3 separate regions of the Homo sapiens genome follow, and all the other regions are linked to region 3. The links come from fine-mapping of genetic effects on plasma protein levels. A gene starts in region 3. Each other region holds a variant in brackets. All regions are shown on one strand. Distances are from middle to middle. Region 1 overlaps IL20RA (interleukin 20 receptor subunit alpha). Region 2 overlaps IL20RA (interleukin 20 receptor subunit alpha). Region 3 holds the start of IL20RA (interleukin 20 receptor subunit alpha).

Region 1 (5,000 bases), 35 kb before region 3:
AAAAGAAGCGGAGGAATAATGGATGAAGAGCCCTTCGATGCAGGCAAACTTTAGGATGTATTTTTTTTCAATTTTCAAGTTTTTAGTTAAAGCTCCTCTCACTGTGAAGGCAGAAAAATTAAACAAATGCCAAGCTCACAACTCTATGTCTTCTCATAGGAATGGGTATCTCCAATCACGGTTCCTTGGCAGCCCAGTGTAGAAAATGTGAAGAGGAGATAAATAAAAGGAAATAGAGAGAAGCAACTGTAAGGATAAGGAAGTGATCACTGATTTGTGGATCCCAGACCCTCATGCAGCCAATTAGTGGCACTTGAACACAACTGGAAGCACCTATAATTAGTATTCCCCAGGGAAAGTAAAAAATGAATTCTGCTTTACAGTGGTTTTAGAATAATGCTTTGTTTCTAGCAATAAAATTGTCTGATGTTCTTGAAGACCACAGAATTTCTATCAATCAGAGTGGTTATGATTTTATTTTTTATTTTTTGAGACAAGGTCTCACTCTGTTGCCCAAGCTGGAGTGCAGTGGTGCACCTATGGCTCACTGCAGCCTCTCCTGGGCTCAGGTGATCCTCCCACCTCAGCCTCCCGAGTAGCTAGGACTACAGGCATGCACTACCAAGCCTGGTTGATTTTATTTTTTATAGAGATGAGGTCTCACTATGTTGCCCAGGCTGGTCTTAAACTCCTGGGCTCAAGCCATCCTCCCTCCTTGGCCTCCCAAAGTGCTGAAATTTCAGGTGTGGGCCACTATGCCCAGCGTGATTATGATTTTAAAGAAGAAAAAAGGCATGTGTAAAAGTTCTTCATTGTTAATTCACAAGGCAGGTGGCCGAAGGACCATGGAAAGAAGCTGGCAGTGGACACGGGACCTGTATGAGTTCTCCGAGGGTGTGAGAACACTTCTGAACGTCGGCCAAGCTCAATGGCAGAGTCCCAGGCTGCTCCACGCATTTCTGGTGGTAGTTGTTTCTGCCTTTGCCTCAACCTGTTTCTGTTAGACACGGATTTGTCAAAACCTTGTCTAAACCATCATACCGACTTCTAGTTTTAGCAGATCTCCTTCCTAGACCAGCAAAGATTTTTTAAAGCTTACCTTTCAAAGTCCTGGCACACTGCTTCTCAGAAGGCTGAGCACGGCGAGGGGGCCCTGGGACGAAGGACTCCACGTGTACGCAGTAAAGAGTGTTCGGCTCCAGCCAGGTGAGCACCAGCGTGTGGTTGGTCACACACTGGGACCACTAGGATAGGGAATTGCAAACATTGGTTAGAGCCAGACATTTCTGGGACCACCCCAGACAAATAACTGTAGAAGGAAATAGAAGACCAAGGCACCATTTAATTCTTTACTATCAGTATAAGCTTTTTTTTTTTTTTTTTTTTTCAGCAACAGTTTCAATATACTCTTTTCCTTTAGCTCAGCAGAGCATGGTCAGGAACTGGACCAATGCTGAGAACAATTCTAAACAACACATGGATAGAGTTCTTATTCATTGTCCTGGGTCCTTGCTCACATTTTTTTCTTCTTCTCAGAGAAAGACTGTGCAAGTGAAAGCTCTTCATCAAAGTGAAGTGTACAATCTCTCTACACTCCAATAACAACACCATATCCTGTCAACAGAGTTTCTGTAAAGAAGATCTGAAGTTAGTTCTGTAAAATTTCTGTATATAGAACTTTATTTTGTGCGGCGTATCTTTTGAACATCATGACTTCCCAGATTCACATGCAGAGAATCAATGCATCAGGGTTGTTTGTTCCCACATTAGCTACAGAGTGGTACATGAATGTATGCCCCATTCCATTTCAGGCTTACCGTTCTGTTTGATTTAGTATTCAACACAGACA[C/T]GTTATACTTCAGATTGGAGTATATTTGTTGCATGGAAACAGGAAGGTCTTCTGGATTTCTCTTCCACTTCTCTGGAGCTGTCAGGACAACAGAAATGGACTTCTCATCTGTAGTCAGTGCCACCTCTGGTGGGCCAATTTGTGCTTAAAGGGGGAGAAAGAGGGTATTATCATGTTCAGATGAAAAATTACCTTAGGTAAAGCTACCATATAATCCTACTTGGATCAAGGCCCTAAAAGACATCCTTTTTTTTTTTTTTTTTTTTTTTTTTTTTGAGATGGAGTCTTGCCCCCTCGCCTAGGCTGGAGTGCAATGGCATGATCTCGGCTCACTGCAACCTCCACCTCCTGGGTTCAAGCGATTCTCCTGCCTCAGCCTCCCAAGTAGCTAGGATTACAGGTGCCTGCCAACACACCCAGCTAATTTTTGTATTTTTAGTAGAGACGGGGTTTCATCATGTTGGCCAGGCTTGTCTCGAACTCCTGATCCTGTGATCCGTCCACCTCGGCCTCCCAAAGTGTTGGGATTACAGGCATGAGCCACCGCGCCCAGCCTTAAAAGACACCTTCTTACAGGAGATGCCCCAAAATGTACTAAGGTGGGCCTGAGATATGCCAGATCTTGAAACCATCCTGAAACCAACCTTGAAACCAACCTTCACACAGCCTGATCCCATGTTAGAACAGCAAACTCAAGTATTCTGTTTCCTTAGTCACATGCATAAACAGTAGATGGTTAATACAATCAAAACTGTTTGTAAGATTTCTGTGACTTGAAAAGTTGGTGATAAATGACAACAACATGACTTGATAAGTGGAAAATCAGAGATGTGATTAGAATGATCTAGAACAGAGACCAGGCGACTTTTATCCTAAAGGTCTGGACAGTAAATATTTCAGGCATCGCAGGCCATATGATCTTTGTTGCACTACTCCACTCTTGCTGTATTGCGAAAGCAATCTAAGGTAACTGTGTAAACAAATGAGTGTGGCTTGTGCCCCAATAAAACTTTATTTATGAATAGACATCAACATTTCAATTTCCTTTACTTTTCCAATGTCACAAAATATTCCTTGGATTTTTAGAAACTATTTAAAAATATAAATACCATTCTTAACTCTTGGCTTGTAGAAAAACAGAAAGGGTGTTGTTGGATTTGTCCCAAGGGTAGTTTTCTGACCTCTGATCCGGAAGGGCTCCTGGACTTATGGAGCACTTGCAGAGCTCATTATGGCAGCCCTGAGTGGGTCCTTCATGACTGAGTCAGCCATAGCTCAGGGGATGGCAACATTTTAAAAGTAAATACCAGGAAGAAGTTGCCTTAATTCTGGGTTACACTTGGAAATTACATCATCACACTACCAAGTTCATACAAGAAGAAGCATAGTGGATAATCAGGACAATGTTTAATCAATCTTGTGGAGACATTAATAGTCCATAAACCCACATTAAATAAAGTCATTTTGTTCCTCAAATTACATAGCTTCCACAAAGTAGTAAGACAAAGTCAAAATTTGATATCATTGTCATCTAGTATCAATTTTGGATCTGGGAGAGATCTTAGAGACCACTTGGTTAAACCTTTCACTCTAAAGATGAGACTCAGGCTGGGTGCGGTGGCTTATGCCTGTAACCCTAACACTTTGAGAAGCTGAGGTGGGAAGATAGCATGAGCCCAGGAGTTTGAGACCAGCCTGGCAACATAATGAGGCCCTGTCTCTACAGTCAATCAATCAATCAGTCAATCAAGGTGAGACTCAGAGCCAGCAAGGTTAAGGACTTTGTCCTGCTCACTCAACCCACTGGTCCAGAATACAGCCAAGCAGAGTACCTTCCTCTGGGCAAGGCTGTCTGTGAGGCTGAGACTGTTAAACCTGATATGAATACATGTTTAACTGACCATTGCAATAATGGCATTACTTACTTTCTAAAAAAGGATAGAACCGTCCACTTTCAGCCCATTTGGAACACTTTGTTCCCCAAATGGCCTTAACTTTGGCATAATACTGGTGTTCGTAGTCAGAAGTTTCAGCAGAAAGATCACAGTAGGTTCTATTGATATTTCTGCATTCTGATTTATTCAGCCATTTCTTTTGCCCATATCTGCTAAGAAAGAAGCTGAATTAATAATGAGGTGCCCTCTATACTTTACAATAAAAAAACTCAGTCATTTTATAAAACTGAATGGAACTGACGACCTTCTCTTCAGAAAAACAAAAGTGCCTGTCATTGAGATAAAAAAGAATCCACTTTTGCGGTGGGCAATTTTTTTCATCAGCTGTCAGGAACATGAGTCAGAGTTTCTGTAATCACCTTTCTTTCTGTGAATTATAATGTGGACAGTATATTTTGGAAGCATATATTTTACTGTTATTCTTTGGCTACAGTGAAATTTTTACATATTGTGTGATCAATTCTTCTAGTAATTATCTGTGTAGGTTTTTAGTCTACTATGTACACGAGGTCAGTTTGACGGATTGTTTGAAGAACAGTTTGTCATTTTTTTCTTGGAAGAAAAATTACTTTGACGTTCTCATAGCATATAAAAATCTAAGTATCAATGATTCTAGGGAAAATACACGAGGCTGGAGTGCATACAGAAATCTGCATTTTTGATAATTATAGTGATGATGATAATATTGACTAGATTGGTCATACTGATTTTCCTTTTCTTTATTAAAAACACAACCCCCATAGCAAATAGGGAGGTGGCAATATTTTCAGCCCTTTTCAGGTGGGAGAGACTGAAGTGTAGAGTTCAGGTAACATGTGATAAGCCAGTGAAAGGGACAGGGGAGGCAGTTTGGGAAAGGTGATGGGTTACAAGTGGCAGCCTAGGGAACAGCTGAGAGGACACTACAGTGGTCCAGGGGAAGATGTAGGTCGCTTGGACAAGGACAGGGGCAGTAGGATAAATAAGGACAGGACAAAAGCAAGAAATATTAGGAGATAGGACTTGGTGATAGAAAACATGTAACAGATTAGGGAAATGAAGGTGTTAAGGATGCTGTCTCTTTCTGTCTGGGGCAGATGGGTGGAATGGTGGTGATATTTACTACGAAAAAGAGCACTGAGACAGAACAGATTTGGGAAATGGATGGGGAGGCAGAGCAGGAGGGGAAGATAAGATGTTCACTTTTGATGCCTTGA
Region 2 (5,282 bases), 41 kb before region 3:
TGTACAAGTGTGCTTGTTTGAAAATAATGAACCAAGAGGCCAGAGTACACCCACCTGAATAAATTCTGCACCCAGTCTGGCAAACATTTATTGACTGCTTTCTCTGCATAGAACAACCGGCCAGCCCCTGGACTCCAGAGGCCCACCATCATTGTTAAGAGACCTACATGCATGAACCAATCACACACGTGCTATGAGAATAGAGAAAAGAAATAAGTAATTCTCACAGACACTGACAAACTGGAAAAAACTTCTTTCATCCCAGGTACTTTATGGCTGGGATCAAAGGGGTGACTCACTTGTTTGCACAGGAAACAAAAGGCAAAAGGAAGTGTTGGCATCAGTTTTCCATCTGCACATATAACCCCCATTCCTCCATGAATTGCATGAGATAGGTTTCATTTTCTCCTGGTGGCCTGTCTGGAGCCGGCTCCTCATAGAGTCTAGATAGAAGACCCTCCTCTCCGAGCCCATCCCCCTCAGAAGGCTCGCAGCCCTCTGAATCCTGGTCGAAGCTGGACAGCGAAGGAATACACAGCCTGCCAGTTTGGGGATCCCAGTCGACCAGGGTCGTCGATGGCTCTTCCTCCGGCCCCTCCTCCGAGTCTGTGTGCTCCTGCGCCAGGGGGTCTAAGTCTTGGAGCTGAGGGGTGTATGAGTACTGTAACGTTTGCGGGCCCAAGACTGCCAACGCTGCCTGCGACTCCAATAATGTTCCTTGTGTGGACACCTCCTCCTGCAAACTGAGCTCCTGCTCTTCAGGCCCCGCACAAATGTCAGTGGTTCTGACATCATATTCATATTCAATGACTGTTTTATCCGGGGGTATTGTTCTGCTGAGGGACTCTTGCTGGGTGAGAGAAGTACCTTCCGTGTTTTCTTCAGAGTCACAAAAAATTTCCATCAAATGCGAAGCATACCCTAAATGTTTCACCTCCTCTTCCTCCTGAGGGGGCCTCAGGTTCCCGCTGGGCTGAGGATCATTAAGGCTGGATACATCACTGCTTTTTCCCAGTAAACTCATATCCTGATGAGAAATTTTAGAATCATCCGAGATATTGAGGGTGATAAAGTTAATCACGATTTTTTCAGCAGGCACAAAGAATCTTTTGTCAAATTCATTTCCATAAATCAAAATCTATAAAGAGAAAAGAGAATGATTTTCACCTTTTCACTTTAGAGAGACATTAAAAACAGCTGTTAGGTAGAATATCTTGTCACCAGACAGTTTTAAAGACCTACTCTTACCAACTCATGTAAATGAAAGTTATGCTTGCAATATACAGAAAACCTCACTCACTGGGAGGCAAGAGACCCAAGACACACAAAAGATAGTTGGAAGCGAGAAGTGATTCGCTGGGTGGGTATTTCTCCAGTCCAGGGCTGGGGCTGGGGCGTTGGTGCCCCCTCTTCTAACTGGCAGAGGAGTTGCTTCATTTCTTGACCTTTTTTACATTCTGTAAAGTCAGAATCTCAGCCACATGAAGAGTAGCAAAGACTGGGTGTGGCAGAGTTTGTGACACTGTTTTATTTATAGTTTGCTATGCACTTGTTAATAAGCTGTGGTTACCTGGGCTACCTGCCCTGTTTTTGGATATACTTGAAATGCAGACAGGCATGAGAACTGGATGTAGAAAAGGAGGGAAATATATGAGCAGGGATGGTTTTTACCCCTTACACCATTCTTATCATGCTATAATAGAGCCAAAAAAGGAAATTCATCTGCCAGTTTACGGTAGACAGAGAAACTCTAAATCATGTCAAGGAAGCTCAGATGAGATTAAAATATTGCTGTGGGTACCATGAAAGATACCTGTTATCTAAGAGAGCATGAGTTACAATCCTCATTGTCACTCTACCATGTGATTTCATTTAACTTTACAAAACAGAACCTTCAGCCTCAATCTTTTACAACATTTTAAGTTTCAAAAAAATCACAGGTGGTCAATTCTCCTGTGAATGTTCCTTCCAGAAAAGGTCTCCCAATGCCATTAAGAAGCCAACTCTGAAACCTGAATGCAGGCAGAATCATAGAAAAACTTATAAACTGAACTAACAGGAAACAAGGTATGTTATCATGTACACGTGAACACATCTTTTAATAGTTCTCAAGAAAATGGTTTTGATTGTTAAAAATATGCTCAGCCCTTCAGAACCCTTCAGCACATTGTCCCACCTCTGTGGGTTTAATTCTTTCTTCTTTCTTGCTTCTTCTTACTGTGAAGGATTAAGTCATGGCCATGTTCCTCCTAAGTGTGTTTCCATTCCATGTCTTTCTCTCTAGACTGATATCCCACTCTCGCCTGTTAGACTTGAATCTTCTCTCCCCTGGACAAAGCTACAGTTCCCTAGGTGCTTTTCTTGTTTCTAGTCTTACTCCGCTCTAAGTTTTCCTGGAACTAATATCTGGTTGGATCTAAACCTTGATACTGACTATGATGCTCCTAACCTAAAACCCTATGGAGATTTCTCTTTGCCAGTAGAATGAGGCCTAGCTCCTTAGAACAGCACCCCAGCTCTCCCCTTACTTGGACCCACTGCCTACTCTCCAGTCTCATCTTCTTCTCTAGCTCCTCATCTGGAGCCTCCTTGTTTAGGGGTGTCATGCAGTTTCCACACATCCACCTTGCTGTTTCTTCTGCCTGCACTACGGATCCTAACTCCTACTCACCTCTCATAGCCAAGCCCTGGCATGAGAGCTGAGCCCCTGTGTAGGGTTTTGGGGCCCTCCTTGTACCCCCAGAATTCCCAGCGCCTGCTCTCATCTTAGCCTTCATGTGTTATTTTGAAATTCTAGTCCTCGACTAGGCTTGAACTTCTAGAAGGGCAGGGCAGGGATCATGATTGAATTTATCTGTGGGACCTTGTATAATCTGGTGGTTAAATAGAACATCTTTTCAAAGCTAAGGAAAATGTTCTGTTAGTCAGCTAATCCAGAAAGCTTTTTTTTTTTTTTTTTTTTTTTTTTGAGACAGAGCCTCAGAGCCTCACTCTGTCACCCAGGCTGGAGTGTAGTGGCACAGTCTCAGCTTGCCGCAATCTTGGTCTCCCGGGTTCAAGTGACTCTCCTGTCTCAGCCTCCCGAGTAGCTGGGATTATAGGCATGCATTACCACATCCAGCTAATTTTTGCATTTTTAGTAGAGATGGGGTTTCACACTGTTGGCCAGGCTGGTCTTGAACTTCTGACCTCAAGTGATCCAACTGCCTCGGCCACCCAAAGTGCTGGGATTACAGGCGTGAGCCACCATGCCCAGCCCAGAAACTGTTTTTTAATTCACCAGCTATTTAACTTTAAATTCACTCTGCCCTTAAAGGGAACTGAATCTGTTCTAGAACCTCCTCTTCTGTCCTCCTGGAGGTGTACTATTATAATAAAGAACCCTGCCACACCAAGTACTCACCAAATTTGCTGGGTGTTTCTCTTTGCCAAC[G/A]TGGATATATCGGTAGATGGAATAGCCCATCACAGAAAAAAGAAACACGGTAATAGATACGGGCAAAACATACCAGAAGATGATTTTAGCCTTGAACTCTGATGATTGATCTGTAAAAAAAAAAAAAAAGGTGGGAATTCGGGGGAAGGGATTAGATAGTTGTGATTTGATGTGATGGGAAAAACCTCGTATCGTTAAGCTGCTTCTGTGCAGATCACTTACATTTGGGAACTCAGTTTTCTCACCTCTACGTTGAGAAGCTTAAGCTAAATGTTATAAGCGGTCTCAGAATTCTTACTCTCCCTGACAAGAGACGGTCTGAAGGAATCATCTGAGTGTACCTCAAATGTTTACACTAAGGATACATCAATCATCCAAGTCAGCACATATTCCACCATCGTATGTCTGGCTATGAGATTCATGCAGGTTCTTATATTTCAAAGTAAGTGTATTTGATATTCAAGTAAGTCACAGAATTTCAAACAAACAACAAAACCCTCCAGTGAAGATCCCATTGAATTGCTCCACTTTTCCACGCCACCTGTTTGACTCAATCTTTCTGCATGTTCACTGAAAGACATGAATGCATGACGCCACTTTTATATGAGTAGCAGAACTGTTCTTGCACTGTTTGGCTGGACTTTCTGGGTAGGGCTGGAGCCTGGGGATGTGTGTAGGGAGGTGGCTGGACAGGGTGCAGTGCGAATGGCAGTTAACTCCCTTCCCGGGCCTGCTGTGCTGTAGGCTCATGATGAGTAAAAGTCCGCAGAGGAAATGAAAAGACCTGGGAAATCGTTTTAATAAAAGCAGCCCTGGCCCACACCATTAATCAGGCCATATAGCTGATGACTAGAGCTCATTGTGACTAGCTCATACTTGTTAAGCCACTGTGGTATACTTGGAAGTTGTGATGGTACATTTTACATGTCCAGTTGGCTAGGCCACAGTATGCAGATATTTGGCTAAACATTATTCTAGAGCCTTCTGTGAAGGTTTTTGTTGTTGTTGTTGTTGTTTTTTTTAATGGGAGTCTAACATTTCAATCAGCAGGTTTTTGAGTAAAGCAGATTACTACCTATAATGTGGGTGAGTCTCATCCAATCAATTGAAGACTTTCATAAAAAATGTCTTGATGACCCTAAGGAACAGGGAATTCTGCCAGGAGTCTACCTTTGGGTGCGAACTGCAAACATCAACTCTTCCGTGGGTCTCCAGCCTGCCTATCCTATAAATTCGGACTTGCCAGCCTCTACGATCCTGTGAGCCAACGCCTTAAAATAAATCAATATTTCTAAACAAATAAATATATCGATATGTGCATCTATATGTATTCTATTGGTCCTGTTTCTCTGGAGAATCCTGACTGATACAGCTGTAGGAAAAAGAGCAGCTTCAGCACAAATGACAAAAGTCCGAGTGTGCTCCTTACACACTAACAAAACCAGCAGGAGTGTGACCGGAGCATTCTAATCCAGGAGAATGTTGGATGCTCTTGATGCTTGGGCCCAAGAGAAAGCAGCAAAGTCACTATCTGGTTAACTATCCAGTTGAAAGCGAAACAGATGTGTCATGGCTGATGAGGGTGGTCAACAAGAGCCGGTGGGAAAAGTTCCGCATGCGGGCCTGTTACCCTGCACAATTCCCAAGGAGCACATTCATCACCAGGTTCCACACAGAGACGTGCCAATGCTGTGATGCGGATGCTGCGGGTGTCAGAACACCACCTGCCCTGCTTGTAGCCTATAACTCAGTCCAACCCTCTTAATACAATCCCTGGTCCCTGGATTGAGCCTGTCCTAATTGAAAAAAGTCATAACAATGACTGATAGCATTTAGTATACACTAACCC
Region 3 (5,285 bases):
GAGATGGGAAACACTTTGGCTTGTCTGGGAAGTAGAAAAAGGCCAGGATAGCAGGAATTAGGTGGTGTGAGATAAGGCTGGAGAGACAGGCAGGAGTTGGCCACACAGGATCTTGTAGAACTGAGAATGATTCCAGGAACAGTAGAAGCCTCTGAAGGGCTTTGAGCAGAGGAGGCAGATGACCTGAGAAGTCACCATCTCCCATTCTATCTTAGTGACTTTAAATGCCTGTTTATATTATGCTAATCATGGTTCTTTATCGTTCCTGAGAACAGGATATGGGAATGGCCAATAGGGCGGAGTTTGATAAGCCATAAGGATAAACTTCACTGTGAAATTCTGTCCCTGGAGGGGTCCAAGAGTGAATGACAGCGTGTTGCACCTGCCTTGAGGGAGCCGCATAGACATTTTGAATTCCATTACAACTTTATCTGAAATGAAATACCAAGATTTCCCTACAAGGTTCATGACATGCTGAGTTTTTTTTTTCCTCTTTGGATGTTTTGGTATTTTACAGCCTGATATGGCACTGAGCTGTGAGACGAAAATTTTTAGAAGTTTAAAAAATGAGAGCATTAAAGCATTAATCTACCTGAGAGTGGCAAAGTCATAGAACCTTAGTAAGCCCACGTTGTACAGAAGACATTGTAGATAATCCTTCAATTACGAGCAGGTAGTATCCAGGTAACTACATACATCTTCTAAGGTGGTCTTCCCAGCAGTCCTTAGACCTTAGCCCAAAGACCCAGGAGAGGACGGGAATACCCTAAGAAGAGCTAAGAAAGTAGTATCAAGGTCTCTTGGGTCAGAAAAGATTTCTTACTGTTTTGTTTTGTAAATTTTATTTTGAAGTCAAGAACATTACTACCTGGTAATGTCAGCACCCAACAATTTTATTTCTCTCTCTCACTTTCTTTGTTTTTGGTTTTTTCCCCAAAGACAGGGTCTCACCCTTGGCCAGACTGGAGTGCAGTGGCGTGATCATAACTCACTGCAGTCTGGAACTCCTGGGCACACGGAGTAGCTAGGACTACAGGTTTTTGCCACCACGTCTGGCTAGTTTTTTATTTTTATTTTTTTAATGTTTAGTATAGACAGGGGTCTCCGTATGTTGCCCAGGCTGGTCTGAAACTCCTGACCTCAAGCCATCCTCCTGCCTATGTCTCTGTCTCTCAAAGTGTTAGGATTACAGGTGTGAGCCACAGCGCCCAGCTTCTCTCTTCGATTAAAAATAAAAACAAATTTCTGTCTGTTAGTTGAAGGCTCAATATTTGCACGTCAGTCGTTTCTTCCCATTCAGTCTACCCGGGAATATTAAAAGGAAAAATAACTATAATTTCTGATAAATTTAAAAGATAAAATATTTTATGTATAATAGCTATCGTTCAAAATCTCTCCAAGATCTGTGTGCATACTTTTCTTATTGTTGTAACTATATTGAATTTAACTTTTTCTTTAACTACCAAGGACTCCAGATTCACCGTCAACTTTCTTCCTGCATTCACTCTTACTGTTCAGTTCTGGGTTAAAAGACAGCGGGGCCTGAACGAAGTGTCTACAAAGCACAGTATTTGGAGAAGCTTTGTTGTTGTTTTTTAAAATAATTTTTTTAAAAAGGGATCCCGGATATCTTTTTTGTTTTTTTAAAAAATCTTTTTCTCATGTACGAGAAATACAGGGAAAAAAAGCAATCAGGTTAATGAATCATTCTGGTTTACTGGATTCCAATTGGTAGAGAATTTAAACTTAAAAACCAAACAAAACGAAAGAGCTCTTCAGTTACCTTATGTCGTAAACGAGTTAAAAGTTTTGTTATTTCTGAAAAATCAAAGAGCACTATCTGTACATGGTCATAACTGCAAAGGAAACAACGGCGTACCCAGGACAGGGGGAGCTTACTTTAAGAAGCTGCGTCTTTCTGGATCATGTTCCTTCGGGGCTGACCCTTTCGGGGAGTTTGGCTTTTAAAGCGCGGATCTCGCGACGCGCGGCTTGCAGGACTGCGGGGCCCGGCGGCCGAGACGCGGCATCCACAGGGGCCCCTCCGCGCGGCCGCGGCGGTGGTGGCGGGAACCTGGGACTGGCCGGCGAGGGGCCCCGCATGGTAACCGTCCCCGACCGCAAGTCATAGGCTGTGGGCACCGCGCAGAGCGCACCCCCCACCGAACTCCCCCCACCCCACCTCAATTCTCGAGACCGAAAGTGCGGAGCGCGGAGTCCTGCAAACTTGACCCCGAGCCAAGGTGCGCGAGGCGACGGCGAGTGTCCCCCGGGCTCCCTGCAGCCCCGGGGCTGGAAGCTCCGGCCTCCGCGCACCTCGTCCTCTGCCCGCCCGAAAGCGAAACCTGGCCGGCGGGCAGGAGGGGAGAGCTCGGCCTCGAGCTCTGCCTGGCGGGGCCCCGGCCTGGAGGCATCCCCGACCCGCACCTGGCGGCGCGACCCACCTACCTGCCCGTCCCCAAGGCGCCGCCAGGAGCAACAGCAGCAGCGGCGGCAGCGGCAGCGGCCGCAGGGCCGGGCGGCCGGGAGCCCGCATGGGCGGCGGGGCTGGGTCACATGTCGGGGGGCAGCAGACTGCTCAGTCCCACGCCCGCTGGGGCCAAGCGCGGCCGCGCGGCCTCAGCTCCGCGCCTGGGGCTCTGCGTGCCACGCTCCAGGCGACCTGAGTCCCAGGGCGCCTCCGCCACAGCCGCGTCCCCCAGGCTTCCCCAGAAACCAAGGGCGAGCGACTCGCGGAGCCCCCACGCGCGCTCCCCCGGCTACCCAGCTGGATGGCAGCGCGAGGGCAGTTCTCGCGGATTTATAGTCCCCAGCCACTCGGCTGTCAGTCCTGAGAGTCTGAGAGTTTCCACCTCTCGGGGTTCATGCCCAGACCAACCAGGTCACTAGGCAGGTAAAACCTCCTTCTGGTAATGAGCGAGGCGAGTGCATTGCAAAGAGATTCTGGTATTCAGGCCGGTCTGATGGTCAGTTAAAGTTCAATATCGGAAGACGGATGAAATAGAGCGTTATTTCTCGATATACAGTTAGGCACTCAGCCGTAGATCTTACAGTCATGCATCATTTAAGATGACAGGATTACCTCCTGAGAAATGTCTTAGGCGAGTTTCTTGTGTGAACATCTTAGAGTGTACTCACACCTATATGGTATAGCCTCTTACACGCCTACGCTATATGGTACAGGCTGTTGTTTGCTCCTAGGCTACAAACCTGTACGGCAAGTGACCATACTGAATACTGCAAGCAATTGTAACACAATGGTAAATATTTGTGTATCTAAACATGTCTGAACGTAGAAAAGGTACAGCAAAAGTACAGTATGAAAGATTTTAAAAATGGTACACCTGTATAGGGCACTTTCCATGAATGGAGCTTGCAGGACTGGAAGTCGCTCTGGCTGAGTCTGTGAGTGGTGAGTCAATGTGAAGGCCTAGGACATCACTGTGTACTACTATAGGCTGTATAAACACTGTATTACACTTAGGCTATGCTAAATTTATTAAAAAATTATTTCTTCAATAATAATAAATTAACCTTAGCTTACTATGATTTTTTACTTTCTACTTTTAAATCTTTTAAACTTTATTTATTTATTTATTTTTGAGATGGAGCATTGCTCTGTAGCCCAGGCTGGAGTGCAGTGGTGCGATCTCGGCTCACTGCAACCTCTGCCTTCCGGTTTTGATGATTGTCCTGTCTCACCCTCCAGAGTAGCTGGGATTACATGTGTGTGCCCCCACGCCCGGCTAATTTGTTTGTATTTTTAGTACAGACTGGGTTTCGCCATGTTGGCCAGGCCGGTCTCGAGCTCCTGACCTCCGGTGATCTACCCTCCTTGGCCTCCCAAAGTGCTGGGATTACAGGCGTGAACCACGACACCCGACCTAAACTTTTTGACTTGTAATAACGTTTGACTTAAAACACAAACACATTGTGCAGCAGTATGAAAATATTTTTTCTTTGTATTCTTTCTATAAGCTTTTTCTATTTTTAAATTTTTCTTTTTCTTTATTTTTTCTTTACTTTTTAAACTTTTTTGTTATAAACTAAGGCACAACCACACACATTAGCCTAGGCCTGCACAGGGTCAGGATTGTCAGTGCCACTGATGCCACCTCACATCCTGTCCTCCTGGAAGGTCTTTAGAGACAATAGGAATTTTTTCAGCTCTATTATAATCGTATGAGACCACCTTTGTATATGCAGTCTGTCACTGACTGAAAAGTTGTTATTTGATTTCATTCAACTCTCACAACCTGCAGTTAGGTCCTGGCCCTTTTTTCAGATGAGGCAAGGGAAACTCAGAAAGTCTAGGAATCATCATGAAGTCCCCCAAACCTGTGAGTGGCCTGTGACCAGTGGTGTGTGGACTTCCACACAAGGCGGTGGGTCCTAGGTTCCATGCTCTTTATAATGGGAGGGGGGAAGGGTGCAATTAAGAGGTGAGTCTTGAAATACTATATGAAAAATCTGAGAGAGGCTCTCAGCTTTGTACCTTTCTAGGTGGTTCTAAAGGTTGGGCACAGCCTGAAGATAGATACACGATTTACCTCAGATGTGTTCCATCTCTTTTGCCCTTAAATGTCTGTTTTCAAATGCTCCAATAAAGGGAAACGACACTCAAATTAGAGCAACTATTGTTTTCTTTTTCTTTTTCTTTTTCTTTTTAAAGGGGGTCTTCAGTATTAAAAAAGATCTTTTTTGGTGAGGAGGGAGTAAGGAGATAGAAGATGGGGCAGGATTTTCTGAGTCGCCTAAGTATGCTACTTTTTCCTTCCTGAAAGACTTGGAAACAGAGGAGGAATCTGGGTCAGAGGGCCCCTTAGGCTGGGATGTTAGCTTCGTGGTGCTGACGTGAGGCCTCTTCAAACCACTTTTCTTGTTTGTTAGCTGGTTCTTTTCCTTTCCACCAAAAGGGGCCCTGAAGGAATCCTGAAAGCTGGATGAGGAAAGAAGGGACTTGCTTCCTATTTGTTTGCTGTTCTTGTCACTAAGGCCCCACAGTGCCTCTTTACCCTGGCAGGGACAGCTAGTTCTAGGAGCAATTGTTTCTAGTTCCCAGCTTCTTCCTGTACTCCCAGAATCAGCTTCACTGCATCTCCTGAGAAATACCAGCACTGAGTAGGCTATGCCCCATTCTCAGAGGTCTGAGTCCCAGTTTCCTGGAGGCTTCGCTTCTGGGATCTGAACCCCACGTCTGCCCTGTGTTCCTTTAACCCTGACGGTGGTAGTTGCTTCTAGTAGTCACTCTGTCTCTTTCAATCTCAGTATTCCTGCTTTACTTT

Evidence for each region. PIP is the posterior inclusion probability: the model's chance that the variant is causal. The UK Biobank Pharma Proteomics Project read protein levels with antibody pairs (Olink). The fine-mapping took linkage between variants from a reference panel, not from the people measured, so its PIPs are less certain.
Region 1: its variant is fine-mapped to the plasma level of the IL20RA protein (UK Biobank, PIP 0.94). The variant lies in the coding sequence of IL20RA. If it changes the protein, the assay may bind it differently, which can mimic a change of level.
Region 2: its variant is fine-mapped to the plasma level of the IL20RA protein (UK Biobank, PIP above 0.99). The variant lies in the coding sequence of IL20RA. If it changes the protein, the assay may bind it differently, which can mimic a change of level.

The regions. Positions count from the first base shown.
Region 1 is chr6:137,007,500-137,012,499 of GRCh38, forward strand. It overlaps IL20RA (interleukin 20 receptor subunit alpha), which reads right to left. Exons shown (of 7, transcript NM_014432.4): 3 at 3,775-3,953; 4 at 1,818-1,993; 5 at 1,100-1,244. Among named protein-coding and RNA genes, the nearest start is that of NHEG1, 17 kb to the left of the region's middle. The variant C/T (reference allele first, on the strand shown) is at 1,850.
Region 2 is chr6:137,001,218-137,006,499 of GRCh38, forward strand. It overlaps IL20RA (interleukin 20 receptor subunit alpha), which reads right to left. Exons shown (of 7, transcript NM_014432.4): 6 at 3,404-3,543; 7 at 1-1,138. The coding sequence ends at 341. Among named protein-coding and RNA genes, the nearest start is that of NHEG1, 11 kb to the left of the region's middle. RefSeq lists an enhancer at 611-1,154. The variant G/A (reference allele first, on the strand shown) is at 3,434.
Region 3 is chr6:137,042,193-137,047,477 of GRCh38, forward strand. IL20RA (interleukin 20 receptor subunit alpha) reads right to left here and starts at 2,773. Exons shown (of 7, transcript NM_014432.4): 1 at 2,449-2,773. The coding sequence starts at 2,536. RefSeq lists silencers at 2,266-2,315, 2,386-2,495, 2,526-2,585.